Homo sapiens: one gene and its partners. The protein of the gene in region 2 interacts with the protein of the main gene of each other region in a biochemical or structural test. Each region holds a gene or a part of one and is shown on either strand. Other genes may lie near its edges.

Region 1 (7,468 bases), on a different chromosome or scaffold from region 2:
TGTGGTGGCTCACGCCTGTAATCCCAGCACTTTGGGAGGCCGAGGTGGGTGGATCATCTGAGGTCAGGAGTTTGAGATCAGCCTGGCCAACATGGCGAAACCCCATCTCTACTAAAAACACAAAAAATTAGCCAGGTATGGTGACAGGCGCCTGTAATCCCAGCTACTCGGGAGGCTAAGGCAGGAGAATCACTTGAACCCGGGAGGCAGAGGTTGCAGTGAGCCAAGGTCGCGCCATTGCACTCCAGCCTGGGCAACAAGAGCGAGACTCCGTCTCAAAATAAATAAATAAATAAATAAAAAAGACAGGCGTCTCACTGGAGTGCAGTGGCACGATCTTAGGTCACTTGGGCCCTGAACTCCCAGACTCAAGCGATTCTCCCACGTCAGCTTCCTGAGTAGCTGGGACTACAGGTGCAAACCACCATGTCTGGCTAATTTTTATTTTTGCAGAGATGGAGTCTCACTCACTGTGTTGCCTTGGCCGGTCTCAAACTCCTGGGCTCAAGTGATCCTCCCACCTCGGCCTCCTAAGGCACTGGGATATTTTCTATTTTCTTTCCTTTTTTTTTTTTTTTTTTTTTTTTTTTTTTTGAGACAGTGTCTCACACTGTTGCCCAGGCTGGAGGGCGGTGGCATGATCTCAGCTCACTGCAACCTCCGCCTCCTGGGTTCAGGCGATTCTCATGTCTCAGCCTCCCGAGTAGCTGGGATTCCAGGTGCGCCACCATGCCCAGCTAATTTTTGTACTTTTAGTAGAGATGGGGGTCTTGCTATGTTGCCCAGGCTGGTCTCGAATTCCTGGGCTCAAGCGATCCTCCCGCCTCGGCCCCTCTAAGATGCTGGGGTATTTTCATTACTATGGACGCGATTGCTGCGATGATCATTTTGATTGCAGACAATCTTCCAGGAAGCAGGGAACAGCCTGAGGCCCCGCTCCGTGTTCTGTGGCATGGAAACTAAGGCTCAGAGAGGGGCGGAGACCTGGCTGAGGTCCCACAGGGTCTCAGGGCCGGTGTGAGGATAAGAATCAGGGCCCTGACCCCCTGGAAGGCCACGGGTCCCTTTCTCAGAACAGCCTGTTCTCTGTAAGATTGGGGTCTCAGGAAGGTAGGGAGACGTTGACCCTGGACTCCCACTGTGTGTGCCAGCGGATGTGGCTGGACTCGGTCCCATTTCCAGGCCGGGATGGGCAGAGCAGCTGCTGCCAGATCACCCTCCCTGCTCTGTGCTCCACGTCCCCTTGGGCCACCTCCGGCCGTGGGGTGCTTCGGGGGGAGGGGCAGGACATCAGATTTCACCTATTACTGAGGCTCTGAAAATAGCCTCCCCACCCAGTGAGACCAGAGTCAGCTTGTACCAGCGAAGCTCCCCCACCCCAATGTCCCCCAAAGCGTGAGTCACCGTAACAGCTGCGGCGGGGACCGGACCTCAGGGCCCTTTTCCGCTGCCCCCGCTTCCCCAGCCAACCTGCTAAGGCAAAGGGGAGGTGGAGGGGGCCCGGCCCAGGCCCTGTCCAATCTCGTCCCTGCCCCTGACTGGATGAGACCCAGAGATGGGGAGTGGTTTGTCCAGGGTCACACAGCCGGTCAGCAGAGCTGGGACCAGAGCCCAGATGGTCTGGCCAGGGAAGCCGGGCAGTGGGGGTGGTGGGGGGCACAGTGGGACGCGGCAGAGAGGACCCATAGAGGCGCAGGACCTGCCTGTGGAGGAGATGCCAGGCGGGCAGGAGGCCCGGACAATGTTGTCCAGCTGGGGCCGTGGCTGCCACCCAAGCTCTGGCGCTTACTGGGGCTGTGATAAGAGGCTGCTGGAAGGGACAGGGGAGGCATCCATGATGGGGGCAGGGATCACTGTCCCCCCAACTCCTTCTCTCCCCAACCCCCCTCTCTCTCTGAATTCCCCCTCCCCACTTCCCCTCTCCTCTTAATTCCTTTTCTCATCTGGCCCCTCGTAGATCTGAGTTCCCTTCCTCCTCCCTAACTGTCCCTCCCTTCTCTATGTTCCTCCCCTTCTCTGTGCCCTTTCCGGGGACAGGTGCCAGGGAGGCGGGCAGGGGTGGGGGCCCACGTCAGTGGTGACCCCGGCTAGTTACAGAGGCAGGAAGACAAACAGCTTGTAACTGGGTCATGGACCTGCTGCCCCATCCTCCCTTGTCCTCCCCAGGGGATCAGACCACGTGAGAGGCAGGGCCTGGTTGGCCGGTTGTCACTCTGTTTCTCCCACATGACCTGCAATAACCAGGGCCTCTTCCCCAGGGACCTCCTACTGCCCTCAGAGGCCCAACCGGCAAAAGAGATAACCAAGACAAGCTAGATGCTGAAAATCCTCCCAAACTCCTACACATCCCTCAACGCCCTATCTCTAGTGTCCCCTCCTTCAAGCAGCCTTTCCTCCTCAACCCAGGGTTTCCCAGATCTAGCCAGGACCATCCAGTTCTATCACCTCTCCCTCTCCAATCCTGAGGCCCAGAGTTGAGGCACCCACTGTCGGAGAAGGTGGCTGGGTGACAGTAAGGTCTATTTTCACCATCTGAATGGCTGGGGAACAGATCACCTCAGATAAGCCTCAGTCTCTCATTCTGTACAATGGGCAGAAAGGAATATTGCAGCCTGCTGGAGACAGGGGAGCTTGCCTGGTGACCTTGTTCCTTGCAAGGTGATGGGGAGAAGGGGAACAAGGCTAGGTCTTTCCTGGAAACCCCAGCTTAGCCCACTGGGACTTCCTGGCCAAAGAGAGCAGCAGCAGCTGGGAGAGACATCTGGACCCAAGACCTTGCTGAACGACCACGCCATGCACTGGGTGATGCCCTCACTCACCTCCCTGTGCTCCTCCCACCCTGAAAGTCCAGGCCAGCAAACCAGGACAAGAAACTCCAATTTCCAAACCAAAAGTTTCCAGGTAAAAGTGACTCAACAATCCTTCATGAGAATCTAGCTCATTACCTACTTAGCACTTATCCCAAATTCCTACGCATCCTTCAAAGCCTTAGTTCTAATGCCTTCTTCTCCGGGTCGGATGACTTGTCCATGGTCCCACGGACAACCCCAGGCCCATCCGGCACCAGCGTCAGGCTCTAACCTTGGGCCGCTCCTTCCCCTGGCTCAGAAAATCACAGCCTGTGGACATGTGAACGGCTCCCAGAGAGGGAAGATTCATTCTGTTGCTCAGCAAACATTTAGTGAGTGCCTGCTGCATGCCGGTCCCAGGTAGGGTGCCGAGGACTTGGCAGGGACCTGGGCTCGGCCCTCACCTGGATCCAGATCTGGGGCAGGGACGGATGGTTAAAATCAGCAAAATATGTAATAAAACGTCAAGTTGGGCAAAGTGCTCTGAAGAAATTTAAGAGTTTGAGGGACCAGAGAATCTCTGGGGTGGGGGGTGTTTTTTAGCTTGGGGGGGGGGTCCAGGAAGGTCTCTTGCAGGAGGAGACACCTGAACAAAGTCTTGAGAGATGGCACTCCAGGCCAGGAGCTTTCTGATGGAGAAATGGGTCATGCAAAGGCCCTGGGGCAGGACCGCACCTGGCGTGTTAGAGGAACAGCGAGGAGGCCCATGTGGCTGGAGCAGAATGAGCAAGGGGGAAAGAGAGAGGAGGGGAGGGTTGAGGAGGGGACAAGGACAGGCTGGGCAGGGCCTTGTGGGCCACAGTGAGGAATTTGGGTAAACTGAGTCCACAGGGTTCAAACTCTCTGCCAAGGCAGTGAGTCAGCAAAATGAACCCTGGGTCCCCTACTTCCCTCTGTGCCTTGATGTTCTGGGAGGACAATGAGGGCTGAGCCAGAGGGGCCAGGAGGTGGAGGAGAGAGGCAGGGAGCGAGGCTGTGCCTCTTACAGGCTGAGCGTTTGCTGAGCTATCACGTCTACTACGAAATAGGGGCCGGGCGCGGTGGCTCACACCTGTAATCCCAGCACTTTGGGAGGCCGAGGCGGGCGGATCACCTGAGGTCAGGAGTTCAAGACCAGCCTGGCCAACATGGTGAAACCCCATCTCTACTAAAAACACCAAAATTAGCCAGGTGCGGTGACACACACCTGCAATCCCATCTACTTGGGAAGCTGAGGCGGGAAAATCGCTTGAACCCGGGAGGCGGAGGTTGCAGTGAGCCCAGATTGTGCTACTGCACTCTAGTCTGGGCGACAGAGCGAGACTCTGTTTCAAAAAAAAAAAAAGTCTACTATGAAAGTGGGGACTATCATTGCACCCACTACCTCGAGGAGGAGACTGAGGCATGAAATCTTCCACCAAAGTCACACAGTCAGGGAGGAACTGAGCTGGGACTGGTCCCTGGGCCTCCTGGCACCCCCCCACCCCACTCCTGGGCCCCTTGAGCAAACAGTCTCGGGCCAGAGCGTCCAGTGACACCTGGTCTGCACCGTGCACACTCTCCGAGTCCCACGTGGTTCCCTTCCCCTTGTTTGATCCCCGAGGTCGGTCGCACACCACATCCTCAAGGAGTCCTGGTCACCTCGTTTCCTGCCCGTCCCCGACCCGGCCTAGACTGTCGGTCCCACAAGGGCACAGCTTTGATCTGTTAGCATCTCCAGCATCCAGACCACTGAAGCAATGCTCCCATCTTCTGCCTCTGGGACCCCCCTTATCCATGCACCCCCATGTGTAAGGAAGGCTGGTACCCACACAGGGCTGGTCAAACTCAGGGAGACCCTGGACAGGGCTGGGCAGGGAGAAAAGACTAACAGAGGCCGGGCACGGTGGCTCATGCCTGTAATCCCAGCACTTTGGGAGGCCGAGGCAGGTGGATCACCTGAGGTCAGGAGTTTGAGACCAGCCTGGCCAACATGGTGAAACCCCGTCTCTACTAAAAATACAAAAGTTAGCCAGGCGTGGTGGCACGTGCCTGTAATTCCAGCTACTTGGGAGGCTGAGGTAGGAGAATCGCGTGAACCCAGGAGGCGGAGGTTGCAGTGAGCTGAGATCACGCCACTGCACTCCAGCCTGGGCGACAGTGCAAGACTCCGAGAGAGAGAGAGAGAGAGAGAGAGAGAGAGAGAGAGAGAGAGAGGGAGAGAGAGGGAGAGAGAGAGAAAGAGAAGGAAAGAAGGAAGGAGGGAGGGAGGGAGGGAAGGAAGGAAGGAAGGAAGGAAGGAAGGAAGGAAGGAAGGAAGGAAGGAAGGAAGGAGAGAGAAAGAAAAAAGAAAGAAAAGAAAAACTAACAGAAATGCCACAGTAGAGAGGGGTCTGAGCCTGGGCCTTTCCAGGTCACCACTGTCCTTGTCACCCAGCCCAAAGCTGGGCTTACGCTGCGCAAATACACACAGAGGGAAGGGAGGGAAACTGGAAAATGCCTCTGGGGTGTTCAATGCAATTACTAGTTTAGCAACAACCATAAGCACAGCAGCACTTATTTGGCACCTACTGTATACCAGGTGTCGGACTAAGGTACATCGATGTCTCTGAGGAAAGTGCCATTATGTTTTTTATTTTATGTTGGCGGAGAAATGGAGGCTCGGGAAGACCAAAGTCCCGCCTCTCAACCAAAAACATTCATTCATTCATTCATTCATTCATTCATTCGTGCAACAGGTATTTATTGGGCACCTACTGAGTACCAAGCCCTGCACTGTGGACCTCAGAAATGTCCTGCCTCCCCGGAGGCTGCAGTGAGCCAAGATCGCACCGCTGCACTCCAGCCTGGGCGACAGAGCGAGACTCTACCTCAAAAAAAAAAAAAAAAAAAAATTGTGCTGCCTCCCTGAATCTGCAGCAGCCCTGAGGAAGTGGGGGTTTCTGCTGACTTCATTTCAGGGCAAGAAACGGTCCGGGGGTGGGGGCAGGTCACCCACCAGAGTCAGGAAAGAGGAGAATTAGTTTAGCAACAATCACAAGCACAGCAACACTTATTTGGCACCACTCTATAGCAGTTATTTGGCACCTTCTCTATACCAGGTACTATATTGGGTTTGGCACCTCCTGAGCAAGATTTTCAGGCAGATGTGAGGGGCACTCTAGGTCTGTGTGTTGGTGACCCCCATCAAGGCAGATCCGAGGCAGGCAGAGCTGTGTCCTCGTCCGTATGGGTGTCAGGGAGTGTGCACGCGTGTGCGCCCAGCGTGTGCTCATGGATGTGAACTGGTCAGGACTTGGGTGCCCGCACGCTGTGTGCTCAGGGCAGATGGGCACCCAGGTGAGGTCGGCGTGGACACAGGCAGGAGAGTGGGGGGCGGGCCGTGTCCGGGGCAGGAGGCCCAGGCAGCATTTCCCATCCATTTGGTGTGAGACAGGGAGGGAGGCCAGCTCAGAGAGACAGAGAGAGAGAAAGAAGAGGAGGAACAGAGAGAGAGGAAGGGAGGGAGAAAGAAAGAGACAGACAGAGAGAAAGAAGAGGAACAGAGAGGGAGGTAGGGAGGGAGAAAGAGAGAGAGAAGAGAGAAGGAGAGAGGGAGAGAAGGGAGACGGGGAGAGAGAGAGAAAGGAAGAGGGAAAGACGGAAAGGGAGACAGAGAAGGAGAGAGGGAGAGAGGAGGAGAGAGCGAGATGGGGGGAGAAAGGGAGGGAGACAGAGAGAGAGAGAGAGAGAGAGGAGAACGCTGACTCTGCCAGAATCCCAGCTTTGGTGATTTACAGGGCGCTTGGCCCTGGCGCGCAGAGGCACCTCCGCCGCAGAGAGGGGAGGGGGAGAAACAGAGAGAGATGCACAGAGAGACCCAGAGGGAGATACAGCGGGAGAGTGGTGGAGCCTTGTAGAGAGTGAATCAGAGGCCACCAGGCCCCGGGTGGGGGGCACACGGGGAGAGAGCGCCCACCTGCCCAAGCCGCCAGATGGAAAATGGCCTGAACCCCAGCTCTGCCAGCCCCACTGTGCCACCTCGGGCAGGCCCTGGCCCTCTCTGACTCTTAGCCCCTCTCCCGGCACTGAGGGGCTGCAGGCCCCCTGCTCCTGGTAGGCACCCCCCAAGCTCCCTCTAAGAACCTACACTGGGCCTGGGCCCTGCTGCCTCCCCCACCCCCACCTATCCCCAGGGCCCAGGAGATGCTTAAGGAAGATCTAGAAAATCCAACAAAGGTCGGGGGTCTGGGGTGGGAGGACAGCCTCTCCCAGCCTCGGTTACCCTGCTGGAGAAATGGCAGCAAAGCACATTGTGCTCCGAGAGGGCATGGGACGAACGAATGAAGGAAACAACGAACGAATGAGACAGGGACCCGGTGGCGGGATGGAGGTGGCTCGGGGAATCCGCCACGCTGCGGCCAAGAGGGACTTGGCCCCAAACCCGGAATAACTAACGTGGCGGTGGCGCCAGCGGGAGGGAGGCAGGGAGGGAGGCCCAGAGCAGGCGCGGGGAGGCCGGCCTTCCCGCCGGCAGGATTTATGGGAGCCATGGGCTCCACACAGTTCCTCTTAAGAGTAAAAGTGAAAAAGCGCTTGAGTCACCGCTGAGCCCGGCCCGGGGCTCCCAGAATGCCCCAGGGCCGCCAGCACCCACTCCCCACTCGGCGGGCCGGGCCCGG
Region 2 (7,776 bases):
AAACGCCGACGCCGTCCCCCGCCCGGCCCTCACACTGCGGCCACAGGGGCCTCAGCCAAGCCCAGGGACCCCACCCAGCTGTGGGGAGGGAAGGAGGGGTGAAAGAAGGCAGCCAGCCCCAGGCCAACAGGAGACCCCAGCCCTGGGGAGTGGAGGCCCAGAGGGCCCTCGAGGGCAGGGAATGGGGAGCGAGGAACCAGACCCACTCAGAATGCTCTGGGGGCTACAGGCTGAGCACGTGGCTAAGTTTCACCACAGCCTCAGTTTCCTTCTCTTGCTGATTGTTCTCTCCTGAGAACTTGGGGAAAGAGCACTGGTTAAGAGTTCTAAACATGTGTCCCCATACCTGATCAAATGTGTTCCCTTTCCAGGGCCCAGCAGTCCCACCTTCGAGTTGTTCCCTCCCGACCTCCACCCCACCACCCTTAAAACAAAACAAAACAAGACAAACAGAATTAAAGTATTGAAGTGGGAGTGTTTGGAAAAAGAACAAGATAGGAGCTGTCCCAACTCTCCCACCCAGATGTGGAGCAGGGGAGGGGGATCCCCTCCTCCCAGGGAGCTCATGGTGCAGTGCCCAGCCTGGCCTCCCAGCGGAAGTGCTCACTAGACATCTCAGGGCTGACTGGCCTTAGGTTTGGAGCAGTCAAGGTCCCATTTTCCAGTTCTCAACTTTCTCAGCCTTCTCCCAAGTTTCTTCGTTTTCCCAGCTTCCCAATTCTCCTTTCCCACCTAGGCCCCCAACAATTTCTTCCCCTTCCCTGTTCCCCTGAATCTCACTTGGCCGAGGTGAGCCCCCCATCAAGCAGCAGCTGCTTCCCACTGCCAGAGAGCCCACCCATACAAGGTGGAGGGCTTCCTGGGGAGGTGGGGAGGAAGTTGAGGGCCCAGGTACTCAAAAACTAGGTGCAAGTGGTCGAGGGACAGGAGGGACTGGTGTGCCTTCGTGTTGCAGGCATCTCCAGCTCACAGGAGTGAGGGGACATGAAAGTCTAGCTTCCACAACACTCTCCTTTCGCCATGCACTATCCCAATCCCATGTCTTTCCAGCAGGCCTCTGGGCCAGTCCCTCCCAAGCCACCAGCGCCACGTTGGCAACACTGGCATGATGCCCACGCCCACTGACACTGTCCCTGCCCTGGGTGGACCCAGGATTTCCATGCATCTTATTCCTCAAGACCACAGTGTTTCAATGATGGCTCAAAATAGAGTCTGTTGGGGAGGTGGCAGGATGACAGTCTGCTCCCATTGCAGCTACGGGTAGACCCCTGGCTGGATACAGAGTGTGACAAGGGACGTGGTGTCCATCTGGTTGGCTTGCATGCTATTCCCCCAAACTCAGCCACAAATTCACTATCTCACAGCCTTGTGCACACACCATTTATCACTTGGACTCACAGCACTCAGATGGCCCAACTTACACACACACACACACACACACACACACACACACACACACACACTCTCAGGGCCTGTGGCACCCTCGACTGCACCCTAACGATTACACTCAGGCCAATGAACACAGGTGTTAAAAGACTCCTGCCCCATCTCACAAACACACACCTCTCCCACAGGTTGAGTGAGTTGGCTTCCTGTTTGGCCCAGCACCCCTGGGCCTGAGCTAGGGCACTGGGAAGAGAGATGTGGGACCCAAGAATAGGGAAGAGTCAAGGCTACTGAAGGGGACTGACTTTCAGGGAGGGCCCTCTGGCCCTAAATTCCTGCAGAGAGACCCAGAAAGCAGGACAGAGATGGTGACAGAGGAACAGTGTCAGAGACCCAGAAGCAGGGAGGAATCTGGCCCTGAGTGGCTGTGAGCCCTGCCTTCCCAACTCTGTGCCTTGGGTCCCCCAGAAGCCAGAGTAGAGTCAGAAATTTCTCAAGACCCCAAACCCTGACCCCAGTGGTACCCCAATTCCCTTTGTCCCCAGCACCAGAGGCAAGGGATGCTGGGGTCCCAGCCCGGAGGGGAAGTGGCCCAGTCCGCCCTGGAGCCTCCCACTCCCAAAATAGAGCTGAGTTTGTCTTTGGCTGAAAGCTAAATATTTGTAAGCCGGGCAAGCGGCCTCAGACCCCGTCCCTCCTCCTTGGTTCCCTCACAGGCCTGGGCTCAGTTCCCCTGGTCAGCTCCCCCACAGGCACAGGCTGGCCTCCTCCTTTCTCTCATAGCCTACCTCCTCTCCTCCACACACCAGCTCACGGGCCCAGCCCCCTCCCCACAAAACCAGGCAAGATCCTGTCTGGGCTACGAGTCCCAGGAGACGGGACCCCTAAAGAGCTATACCCAGTTGCTGCTCTGTGCCCACTCAGCCAGTCCTCTCTGCCTTCTATCTCTTCTGCCAGCTTATGTATTTCCCACCCCTCTCTCCTCACTCCCCCTCGCCCCCCTCCCCCTCCTTTCTCCATCGCTTTTCCACTCCTCACAGTCAGTGTGCTTAGCTGACCTTAGGTAGGGGTCCATGCCTTCTTCTGACCTAATCCCCTCTCACCCTCTTTCCACTGCCCTCTGACCCCTGGCCCTATTCTTCCCTCCCTTTTCTCCTGCCCTCTGCTTCCCCTTTCTTGGACCCCACTCCTCTCTCCTCATCAGAAGGACCCCTGGAATTGACAAGCACCACAGCTACTATCTATGTGAGTTGGAGGAGGTGGGTGGGCAAGGACTAGGACCATTAAGGTTGTGGCTGGTTTCCTGGGGGGAAGAGGGGACAGTTACCTCAAGCAGGGAGGACGCCATCCTGAGGCTGGGGAACGGGTCCCAAGGAGCCAGGCAGATGGAGAGAGCTGAGCCGGGGGGTGGGGGGGGTAGAGAGAGAAAAGGGAGAGGGAGGGAGAATGGGAGAATGGGAGAGAAGAGATCTAAAGTTAGAAGGGACCGGGGTGGGGGGCTGCTCTCTGTCTGTAGGGATCCACCCTCTAATTACAGCTTTCCCAGCGGAGAAGGCTCCAGATCCAATGAGGAGGGCGAGAGAGGGAGGCAGAGGGTCCAAATTTCCTGCTCCATTTGCTGAGCTCCCCAAAGAAGGGATCAGGGAGGGAGAGGAGAAAAAGGGGCGCCCATGGAAGGGGTGGGAAGCAGGAAGAGGGGAGAGCAGCATGGGCAAGTTGTCAGGGCTTCCTCGGGGGGCTGCTGAGGGGAGAGGTTAAAGGGATGGTGGACCCCGGTGTCCTACACGCGGCAGCAGTCCCATAGGCATCTGTGGGCACCCCTCCCAGAGCTCCCCAGTGTCATGTACCTGGGGGAACCTGGGGCTGGCTGTCCCGAGTCTCTCCTCTCTGGAGGTCTGGCAGGGAGAGTGCAGGCAACGGGTGGCCTGAGGGTGCTGGGAGGGATCCGCTCTCTCCCAGGCCAGCTCCACTCCTGTTCCACTCAGGCTCCGGTCCTACAGTCCTACTCTGACTCCAGAGTCCTTGCTGCTGCTCGGCGGCTGCTGCTTCTGCTACTGCTGCTGCCTAGGCTGCTGCCGCCCGCCGCTGCTGAGGGAAGGAACAGGAGGGAAAAGGAACAAACCCCAAACCACTAATTAGAGATCCAGGGGGGGGATGGGGGGTTGGGGACGACACTCACACAGAGAGACTGGAACGCACTGACATACACACTCATGGCCAAACACAGGGGTGATGCATGCACACGTACACACAGTACCACTCACATGGGTACAGCCACTATCATGAATGAACACAGACGGACACACACAAATGCACACAGTGACGCACTGGAGGCACACGCACCACACCCGCCCCAGCTGACCATGGAGAGGCTTGCTTCCCCAGTCACCCACCTGCCTCTAGATCAGGAGAGCAGTGTGTATGTGCCCCTGTGTGTGTGTACGTGCCCGTGTGTGTGTGTGTGTGTGTATGTTGTGGGAAGAGGCATGGAAGGTTCTGAGGTGGAGGTTTCTGCTGCCTAAACTTTTAGTGTCACTGAGGTTGGTTCCAGAGCAAGGCCTGGAGGAAGGGTTGAAGAGTTGGGGAAGGCTTGGTATTGGCTTGGGGGTCCCTCAGTCTTCCTCCCAGTGCCTCAGTTTCACTGTTTGGAGGTGATACCTAGGCCTACCTCACTTTGTGGGGCAGAACCTGGATCTTCTGATGAAGAGAAAATTTAAGACAAGCAGGAGTGAGGGTGGCGGTAGAAGGTCATTGGGTCAACTCATTCATGCCGACACCTAACCTCTTTGGATTATTTCCCCCAAAAAGAAATGCCCTAACCTCCATATTCCTTGTCAGTTACCATCCCTGGGTAACCAAGTTACCATCTCTTAGAGACCATGGGTTTAATCTCCATCCTTTGGTGGACAGTTCTCCAGAGTGATCTGACTTTCCTGGGAACTCCTGGTTCCCTTTCTCATTGCCATGCATCAATTCCCTCTTCCACAGAAAGAACTGAAGTTAGAACTTAATAAGGACTTCCCAACAAAATAGGAAGTAAGAGAAGGAAGGGCAGCCAGGTTAGGAGGGAAACCCAAAAAGTCTATTACCTGAAACCTGGGCCATGGGCCCTGAGGTATTTATGGGAGAGAGGACTGGGCAGCTAAGTGGTGACACCGGCAGCTCTCCCACAGGGGGGCTTAGCCCGCTGGGGTTGTTTTACAGGTTATTCCTTAACACACACTTCTCCCCCTCCCAGCTCTCCCTGTCAGGGGAATAAAGCCCCATCCTTTCCACTCTCCTCACTCTGCAACACCATCCCCTCACTTTCTCGGAGTGCCCAATTCCTTGCTCCTTTTGCTCTCCCAGATCTCCAAAGAAAAAGCTGGGAGGTGGCAGGAGCAGATGGAGGTCCACGGAGGGTTGCACAGCAGTTTCGCCAGCAGGTAGGCACCAATTTCAGGGTAGGGCCCAGGAGTTCTGGATTCTAGCCCCATGATTTGATTTACCTCAAGGAACTCTGGGAACCCAAGGTTTAGGGGAAGGGTTTGGGAACCAGGTGGCTGATAGACAAAGAGAAAGCAGCAAAAGAAGAAACAGAGCAAATGAAAGAGTCCAAGACAATCAGAAGAGATATCACCAGGTATAAGAGAGAGGAAACAGGAAAACAGAAGACCAGATGTGTGGCTTTAAACAACAACAACAACAACAACAAAAAACAGAGCAGGAAAGAAACTAAAAAGATAAAGAAACAGGCCCAGAGGAACAAAGATGGGGAGACAATGGCTTGGGAAGGACAGAGAAAATAGCCTGAGGCATAGCCAGGTCCGGAGGAGGAGGAGGAGGAGGAGGAGGAGGAGGGTTGTGTTGCCAGGCAGGTGGGGGGGCGGGGAAGGAGTATAAATAGCACATAATTGTGTCCGCTGATTACACGGGCCACCCCACCCGTCTGCCTGAGAGGAAGTGCCCGTGGTGGGGTGTCCCTGTGACCTCGCGGTCTCCCCCTTGTTGGGGGGGAGTCTGAGACTGAGGTGCCAGATGGCTTTCCGGGGCCCCGAACTCAGAAGTTGAGAAAGAGAAGCTTTAGAGAAATTCCTGTATCACCAGCAGAAAAGCCCGACCCAGTTAGATCAGGCAGGAAACTGAGGCAGAGGAGGAGAAAGTCTAGATTCTAAAGAAGAGATAGCAGGTGAGGAGGGGGTTGGGACTCAGATTAGATGAGAGAAGAAAGGAAGAAACTGAAGGGGAAAAGGAGGAAGGATGGAAAGATAAATGGACAGACAGGGCTGGGGAGAGGAGTTGGAAGGAAGGGTCACCTTCTCACTCCCCGTGTGGGCTTTAATCCCTAACCCTACCCGGGAAGGGGCAGACGTATTCAAACCCTACTATTCTCTATTCGAACCCTACTATTCTCGGAGAAATAAAAAGGAGGAGCAGAGTCCCAGGAAGATGTGAGCCAGTGCCCCGATGTGTCAACATAGGACACCCTCTGGACACAGAGCCTCTTCCCCACCAGAGATCAGCGCCAAAGATAGGCAGAGGGGCTGCCTGAATCCCCCAGCTGCTGCCCTCAGGAACCCCTGGGTTCTGACTTCTCCATGTCCTTTTTAAAAATAGTCCTGCAGCCCAGCTGAGGCTCTGGTGTTCCTGGGTCCAGCTCCCCAGTCTCCTTCCCAGTGCCCTGAGGGGCTGGGGGCAGCAATTGGAAGCCCTAACCAAGGACCTACCTCCACCCTCTCAGGCCTCCCTCAGCCCAGCCTCCCAGGGGGTGGGGCAGACCAGGGAGAGGCGCCATGTGGCAGGGGCGGGTAGAGGCTGCGGCTCTGGTCCTTCCAGTATAAACCCCCTAGGCATCTGGTTTCTATCCACCACCCCCCACCACCCTGGGGGCCCCTCAGCCTCCGCCCATGGCCACCCAGACGCTGAGCTCCAAGGGATGGATGCCCCAGACGGAAGGGGTGGGATGATGCCTTTCTGATATCCCAATGCCAGGACTGGGCTGAACCACAGGAACCATTCCCTTCCCACCCTCCCCTAGGAGAATCAGGGTGGGCTTTGTAGGTTAGAGGGGGTTGAATCTGGCACCTGCCTCAGTTCTCCAAATGATTTTGGATCTTTTTGGAAAGATCAGTGGGGTGAAAACAGAATGAAAACTGGGGAGAGTGGGGCCGGGTGCAGTGGCTCACGCCGGTAATCCCAGCGCTTTGGGAGGCCAAGGTGGGTGGATCACCTGAGGTCAGGAGTTTGAGACAGCCTGGCCAACATGGTGAAACCCCGTCTCTACTAAAAATACAAAAATCAGCTGAGCGTGGTGACGGGTGCCTGTAATCCCAGCTACTTGGGAGGCTGAGGCAGTAGAATCACTTGAACCCAGGAGGTGGAGATTGCAGTGAGCTGAGATCATGCCATTGCACTCCAGCCTGGGCAACAAGAACAAAACTCCATCTCAAAAAAAAAAAAAAAGAAAGAAAAAAAAAACTGGGGAGAGTGGGAGACCTGTACCCCCTATTCCCAAGGGATGCTACTTCCATCGTCCACACCATCACCCTCTACCACCTTTCTAGGCTGGGCTGTCTCTAAGAGCCTCATCCAAAGGGACTCCCAACTCTTCATTGTTGCTGTTATAGAAGGTTTGACTACCCTAGGGAGAATCACCAGAGAATAGTGAGCAGAGCCCCTGAAATAGAGACTGACACATGCCCTAATACATACCTGATGACAGACACATTCAGATCTGCATACTTGCACACACACAAGGTGACACATAATTCATACACATTTGTACTATGCAGGCATCCATATTGACACACACTGATATATACATATACAGATAATGCTTACCCCAAGACACCCTAACCCCCAATCATAAAAATGCACACACCAGTATATATATACATGCATACAGACTCACAGCCACCTAGAATACTCCCCACATGGACTCACAGACTCCCATCAACACACGTATCTACACATGTGGCAAATGTCACATACATATACCCAGGGCTACCATTACAACTTTACAGCCCTGGAGATCTCTGTGGTCTCCTAAAGGGCATTTGGGAACCCCTCTCCCTATAAGGATCTGGAGATAAGGGTGATATGGAGGCCACTGCCAGTCCTGCAAATTGCTGCCTCCAACTCCTACTAGTATAAGAAGTTCCAGTGTACCTTTAGGTACTTTTGATCCAATACTCCACACACACACCAGAGTTCAGAGACCCAGATGGCCCCAGCGAACTCCCTGGTCCTGGGGAACCCCAGCATCCCTACCCCCACCCAGGCCCCCGCTGCTCTGCGGCCCCGCTGACTCATCTCTCCCTCTGTGGAGCTCCCCAACCACAGGGGCCTGGAAGAGAAGCTTGGAAAGTTGCGCTCATGTCCCGGGCCCCTGGTCTGGCCACTACCCGCCCA
Region 3 (7,468 bases), on a different chromosome or scaffold from region 2:
AGAAAGCTTTGCTGTCCTCGTCTTCACATCTGCATGAAGCAGGGCTCATCAGGAGTGATTAATTCCATTTTAAAGATGAATAAACATGGAGGCTAAGCACTCTGCTGAGCAAAGACACGTAATACATTCATCTCCTAGCTCTGGGTCCCTATGTTCTGGATCTTAATATCTTTTTTTTTTTTTTTTGAGACAGAGTTTGCCTCTTGTTGCCCAGGCTGGAGTACAGTGGTGTGATCTCGGCTCACTACAATCTCCGCCTCCCGGGTTCAAACAATTCTCCTGCCTCAGCCTCCTGAGTAGCTGGGATTATAGGTGTGCGGCACCATGCCCAGCTAATTTTTTGTATTTTTAGTAGAGATGGGGTTTCATCATGTTGGGCAGGCTGGTCTCAAACTCCCGACCTCAGGTGATCCACCTGCCTCAGCCTCCCAAAGTGCAGGGATTACAGGTGTGAGCCACCGTGCCCGACCTTGATGACTTTCTTTCTCAGTTCCTGTAATTACTCCCACAGGTCACAGAAAGTGGAAGGCTACCACCTCCCTTTGTGATGTAAATGATGTGCCATCATTTACATGCCATCCTTCCTGTTCCTTTGGACAACTGGATCCAAAATCCTCAAGGTTCAAGTCAGGCTACTACTTAACGTTTGAATCCCCTCTACAACCCCACACCAAGTGGCCCTCCAGGCTATATGCCTCCAGCAGCAGGGAACTTACCACCTGTCTTAGGCTCATTTCCATTTTGCTCCATCGGGAGGAATGGTTAGGGCCCCTAGCCCGCCAAGACTTGCAATCCCAACTGCAGGTGGTGTTGGGCTTTGTTTAACTGTGGACTGATGGTGTCACTGGGGCCTTTGATTTCGGCCCATTCACCTTGGAGGATTCTTAGGCCACCTTAGGGCTCTGTTTTCAGTGGTGCCCAACAATGCCACTATAGACCTGAGAGAGTCCCTGTCAAATGTACTAGCAGGAAGTCACTGCTAGTGGGATCATGTGGGGCCCCAGCTTAATTCCCTCATCATTTAGTCTCCCCAGCTGTGGAATGAGACTGACTGAAAGCTTAGGGACACTAACTAGTCTTTTAGAATATCTACCCCTAGTCAGGATGATAGTGATGTTGGCCCAAATTCCTTTGGGGGTTATACTTTTTCTTTTTTTCAAACAAGGTCTTGCTCTGTGACCCAGGCTGGAATGCAGTAGTACGATCATAGCTCACTGCAGCCTTGACCTCCTGGGCTCAAGCCATCCTCTCGCCTTAGCCTCCCAAGTAGCTGGGACTACGGATGTGCAGGCCACCACATCTGACTAATTAAAAAAAATTATTTTTGTAGAGACGGGGTCTCGCTATGTTGCCCAAGCTGGTCTCAGACTCCTGGCCTCAAGCAGTCTTCCCGCCACCTCAGCCTCCCAAAGCATTGGGGTTACAGGCGTGAGCCACCATGCCCCACCTGATTATACTTTTCAAAGTGCTTTAGCCCCTCTATGGTATTTGACTTCACAGCAGCTCTCTAAATGCAGTTACTTGAGGGGAAATCCAAGGGGGAGAAGGAGATGTCCCCTGCTCAGTGAGGTCTGTCACAGTGTCTTCCCTCCTCCCCGTGGGCCCTGTGTGGCACCAGTAGAGTCACCAATGGCGAAAGCCAGTGTGGATCATCCCAAGGGCCTGGGAGCAATGTGAGATTTTTTCATTTGATGTGAACAGACACAATAACGGTTCACATTTATTGAACCTTTTCTGTGGTGAGGTATTGTGCCAAATCCTCTAAATATATTCCTTCATCTAATTCTTACGACCGCTCCATGTGAGAAGTACAGCCACCTCCATTTTACAGATGAAGAAACTGAGGTTCAGACTGGTGAAGTGACTTGTCCAAAGTCATGTGGACTTGGGGCAGGAGCCTGGACACGAGCCCAGCCTGCAGGCTTGCAGGCTCCTAACTACCAGCCTGTGCATCACCTCTCACTAAAAACAAAACCCAAGCCACGTACCCCGCAAACGCTTCATATCTGACTTGTGTGGAGGTGACAAAACCGATTCCTGAAGCTTTGTGTCTGGTGGGTGTGAGACACTCTCGCAGCTGCTCCCCAGTGTGAGGGCTGCCTCAGTCTCTCACCTGCCCTTTGAGGAGGTAGCAGGCTGAACAGTGTTCAGAACTCAGTGTGTCCTCAAATCAGCCAGGTGGGTTTGCCTGTAGGTGCTCAGAACCATTCGGGTTCCACTGACATCAGGGGCTTGGCTCTAGCCTCTCCCAATTTTTGAAGAACTAGACTCCCACATTTGCTCCCTCTAGCCACCAACAACTCTTCTCTACTTCCCTTCAGATTAATTGGGGTTGGGGAAGAAAATGTTCATTGCCCATGAAAATTATCTTGGAGAAGTTGGCTTCAGTAGCCTCTTTATAGGCTTGGGGGCTGCTTGGACAAGGAGGTTCTGTGTGTGTAGAGGGGCCCATGAATATTACCATTTGTTATTTTTAGTTTTTCCAGGAAATTTGTAATCATGTATCATTTTTTATTCTCTCCCCTCTTCCTCCTTCTCCTCACCCCATTCACTTGTGTCCCTCTTTTATTTCTCTTACTTCCTAATTCTTATATCATGCTTGCATGTCTTACATTCATCCTTCAAGACATGATTTGAATGTCACCTCTTCTAGGAAGCCTCCCATGATGTCTCCAGGCAATTTAGCAATTCCTCTGCTGCCCCTTGTGTATATCTTTATAACAGCTCTTAGAAAGTGAATGTCATTATTTACTCAAACATCTCCACTTCTTCACTGGATGGCAGGTAAGTCCCTGGAGAAAAGAACCTATGTATTCCATAGCTTAGCGTAGTGTTTGGCACATAGTAGGTGCCTGTATAATAGTTACAGAAGGAAGGAATGTTTCTTAAGCTTTTATGTCTCGTGTGACTTTAAAACAAAAATAACAACTGGGTGCGGTGGCTCACCCCTGTAATCCCAGCACTTTGGGAGGCTGAGGCGGCGGATCACGAGGTCAGGAGATCAAGACCAGCCTGGCCAACATAGTGAAACCCCGTCTCTACTAAAAATACCAAAAAAAAAAAAAATTAGCCAGGTGTGGTGGCGGGCACCTGCAGTCCCAGCTACTTGGGAGGCTGAAGCAGGAGAATGGCGTGAACCCGGGAGGCGGAGCTTGCAGTGAGCCAAGATCGCGCCACTGCACTCCAGTCTGGGTGGCAGAGCGAGACCCCGTCTCAAAAAGTTAAATAAATAAATAAATAAATAAAACAAAAATAACAATAACAACAATCTCTTGAAGAGGCTGTTGTATTTGTAAAACGTCCCTTCCTCAGCATCTTGAGAAACTTTCTGGACCTCTGTCTTTTGAGAAGTTTCCAGTCTGCCTTTCCTGCCTCCTTCTCCTTTCTGAAGAAATTCTCATTGAATACAGAGAGGCAGCACAGACTGGAAATGCTGCATAAAGCTTAAATTGGGCAGGGCCCAAGCGTTGTTGGGTCTTTGGAGACAATGGCTCCTGAGAATTTTTTTAGGCTTTCCAGGAACTACAGAGAGTTGCTTCATGTCAGGAACACAAATTCTTAAAGAGCTAGTCACCAAGTATGGGGGGCCAACCCATTCTTGGAAAGGTCTCTCGCTCTAAGCAGCAAACAGCTCTCATGTTGCTTCTTCCAATCTATTCATGTAATGCTCCCAACAAAAGCACAAACACCACAATATGAAATGAACACCTAAAACCATTCCTTTCACCAGCCCAGGGACATTGAGACAATAAATACTGAAACAATCACTTCAGAGCAGTGTGTAACAGAAGACAAGAGTCATTTTAAAAAGCAACAGGGAAAAAACCCAACCCAGAAACCCAGATAGTGGTGGAAATTAACATCTTGATAAAGACAGAGAAGCCTAGATAAAGCCAGAGGATAGTGTGTGGGGAGAGTGAAAACCGATACAAATTTTCCAGGAAAAGGATTGGATCAAAGTAATGAAAGTGTAATGTCAAAGAATACTTTCCTAAAATACAGACAGTATGTCATTCCTACTCTTGTTATTCATAGGCAGTTCAAACTTCTCTAGACGTACTTCAAAACAAAAACCTTTTAGAATTATTGGGTGGGAGAAATCTTGGGACAGAAAAAAAACTTTGGGATGGGAATGGGGATGACAAGAATTGATGGGTCAGAGTTCCAAATGCAGATGCTTTTCCTGTGCCCTGCCTTAGCCAGAAATAGCTTCTTCATGAGCAGGGCCACCAGCTGAGGTCCCCACACTCTACCAGTGTTGGTAAATGTGGGTAAACACCTTAAATTGCCTCAGGATTCAATCCCTCCCACTATCCTCCAAGAACAGGGTGAAGTTCTGAATATATCTCTCTATACAAATGCATTCTATTGTTGATACTTTTTCCAGAGAGGAGGAAATTAACAGTAATAGTAATCAATATTATTGACTGCAACGAAATGTCTTCTTTGGAAATTGACTGATGGTCACGTATCAAGGGGAGATGCTGGGTTTTCTCTCAGGGAAGACATTTCACTCTGTCACCTACTTGGTTTCAAAGAGAAGGAGGTGGAAGGAGGGGCCAAAAAGTTTAAGGTATGCTGCATACACTGACAGGCTCCTCAGAGCAACTGGCTGGGTAGCAAGGGGGCTGTGACTGAAGAACATGACAGAAGCCAATCCATTGTACAGCAACCACCAAGGCCAAATCTACTTGCCACCTTCCTCATATCTGCCAAGTGCTCACAAGGCCTTGTCGATGAAAGGGAAACTGAGGCAGCCAATGGGGTGAGAGGGCAAAGGTCACTTCAGGTTGAGGCAGAGGCAGGATGAAAACACTTACGTCGGAGGATCTCTCGTTGCTTTCTGACGTACCAGGTGTACAGAGCGGCACGCTTCTGGGTCTTCATAGGGGTGCCCTTGTTGAGATGCTGGGAGAGGTGCGACTGGTTCAGGCCGGTGACATCGACCACCTCCCTCTGGGGGATGTTGTGTTGCTGCATGTAACCCTTGATCATTTTAGCAGCCCTCCAAGGGTCCTCACTAGACAGACAAGCAGATGGTTAGGGTACTAGTGGGAGACATCTGGGGAGAAACATTCTTTTTCTAGGGGGTGCTACCTATGGTCTATGCAAAATTCTGAATTTTCCCCCCATCTAAGCTACAACTTTGGGGTAGACATGAGGCCAAAATGGAAGCTAAACAGAGGAGAAGGTGACTGCCCCTGTACGGTACACCTCATCCCTTTCTTCTGAGGTTAGTGGGCAAAAGAGGACTTCCCATCTTCAGGAATAAAAAAGCACCACCACCACTCTCTCTTATTAAGCAAAAAGAAAAGCTCTTGTTTTATTTAATTAATTAATTAATTTATTTATTATTATTTTTTTTGATGTGGAGTTTTGCTCTTGTCACCCAGGCTGGAGTGCAACGGCATCTTGGCTCACTGCAACCTCCACCAGGATCCTGGGTTCAAGCGATTCTCCTGCCTCAGCCTCCAGAGTAACTGGGATTATAGATGCCCAGCACCACACCCAGCTAAATTTTTTATTTTTAGTAGAGATGGGGTTTCACCATGTTGGCCAGGCTGGGCTCACACTCCTGACCTTAGGTGATCCATCTGCCTCGGCCTCCCAAAGTGCTGGGATTACAGACGTGAGCCACCGCGCCTGGCCATTTTATTTTGCTTTCCTCCATTTTCCTGCAATGTGGGAGATTTAAAAGGCAGGAGGCCCACTGGAAAGTGGGGATGCCTTTAGCTTGGGGCTGGACTCCCTGATCCTACAATGAAGTAGGGATAGCATCAGTTTCTGAATTTGCCCAATTTTAGCTTCAACCTCTCCTACATTATTTTCCTTTTGAATGGGTATCTCCATTTCTTATAAAACAGGGGTGAAATGTATGTGTTCACCTTCTAAGAAGCAAGGAGGATGTCTTAGCCAAATAGTAAATAATTTTCAGAGTTTTAGAAAAGTTTTCCAAAATACAATGTTGTATCTCCTTGGGACGGGAGGATCACACCACTGAGGTGAGGCAAGTAGTTAAAAAAAAAAAAAATCCACAGCTCCACCTTCCAGACAAAATCTACTGGGCTAATGGGGACAAATAACTTCAATTTCGGACATTAACAATTTTAGATGCTTGTTTTCCTGTATTATGTTTCTCATAAATTTTAAATACTGGATAAGAACATGGTTATACTTTTCATTTCTCATAAACACAGGTGTGTAAACTGCTAGTTTTAGCACCTTTGAATTTTATTTGTCTAGAATGGTTTCAACTTTGCCAATATCTTTTCTTGCTTATTGAACAGATGCTTTGAAAAGAGAGATATAATTTAAAACTAGAAATTAAAATAGTGTGCAGCACAGAACAAAAGTACTAAAGAAGCAATATATACATGTTTACTATTTATTTAATGCAGGTACATATTTAACTTACAAAAACCAGCACCCCATTACTGTATGTTGATATATATATTAGCTTGATAGAACAAGAAAAAAAACGGAAGGGAAAACTAGTTTCAGGTGAAACAAAAAAGAAAACGGTGTAGAGGCTGAAATAGATACAGCATTGCAACATAATAAGCAATTTTATTTCTAAATGGCGCCTTTAAATATGTCAAATAAAATTAATTCTGTTTAATGAATAAAAATCCAGTAATCGAACATATTTTATAAGCATTTGGGTAGTTGTGATTATTTTATTAAGACTTTGATATTAAACTCGTGAGAACACAGGCTTTGATAGAGATGTTTTTGAGAAATGCAAACTTTTTATATTAATTATATATAAGAACGAATTTCTCAAGTATTTACAAAGGTAATTTCCAAGTACACAATATGAGGAAGTAACAAGAAGAACAAAAAATGAGAAAACGAGTTACAGTTTCAAACGTGGAGAATTCACATTAAGAGGAAAATAATGTAATAAACGTTTTAGACATATCCTTGTAAACATCACAGATCATTTAAAAGTTTATTTCTGGTCAATATTTCCACCGATATTTTTAGGATGGAAAAATACTTTCAACGGCTACGAACAAGACTCCTCGAACCTTAGGGGAAAAATTGCATTTTAAAAGTGAATATTGCTTTAGCAAATTCTTCGGCTATTTTTCTTTTGTTTAAATGCCTTTACCTGTGTTCATTTTGTATGCCTAAGAAACCTAGAAAAATAGGGTACTGTTCTAAGTGGGAATGATTCTGTGGAAACAGTGAATTAGCCCAACAATTGGGGAGGGTTTAAAAAAAGCCCCCAAGAACCTTATAAATAATGGCAAAACCTTTTAAGTCCGACTTAAAAGAGTGAGGAGTAAGATGGCGCAGTTATACCTTCACAACCCTCTGACCCCAAAATTCACGTGTGTTCACCGGGAAGAGCCGGGAGAGCTGGTTATTTTTGTTTGTTTGTTTGAAAACACAGCTCAGGTTCAGAGGTTCCCTAACACCGAGAAAGGCACCGGTCCCGAAGAGGGCCTGCGGCCATTGTGTC

Evidence for each region. Proteins that work in one complex are often made in the same cells at the same time.
Region 1: the proteins of SP7 (region 2) and NFIC form a complex in vitro, tested with the Homo sapiens proteins (one study listed by BioGRID).
Region 3: the proteins of SP7 (region 2) and HNF1B form a complex in vitro, tested with the Homo sapiens proteins (one study listed by BioGRID).

What each region holds. Positions count from the first base shown.
Region 1 is NC_000019.10:3,369,555-3,377,022, reverse strand, and holds part of NFIC (nuclear factor 1 C-type), read right to left. Parts: intron 1-7,468.
Region 2 is NC_000012.12:53,332,913-53,340,688, forward strand, and holds the start of SP7 (transcription factor Sp7), read right to left. Parts: upstream 3,443-7,776; 5' UTR 3,234-3,442; intron 2,865-3,233; exon of another isoform or gene 2,782-2,864; 5' UTR 2,735-2,781; coding exon 2,714-2,734; intron 1-2,713. UniProt on the Homo sapiens protein: Transcriptional activator essential for osteoblast differentiation. Binds to SP1 and EKLF consensus sequences and to other G/C-rich sequences.
Region 3 is NC_000017.11:37,734,620-37,742,087, forward strand, and holds part of HNF1B (hepatocyte nuclear factor 1-beta), read right to left. Parts: intron 5,021-7,468; coding exon 4,821-5,020; intron 1-4,820. UniProt on the Homo sapiens protein: Transcription factor that binds to the inverted palindrome 5'-GTTAATNATTAAC-3'. Binds to the FPC element in the cAMP regulatory unit of the PLAU gene. Transcriptional activity is increased by coactivator PCBD1.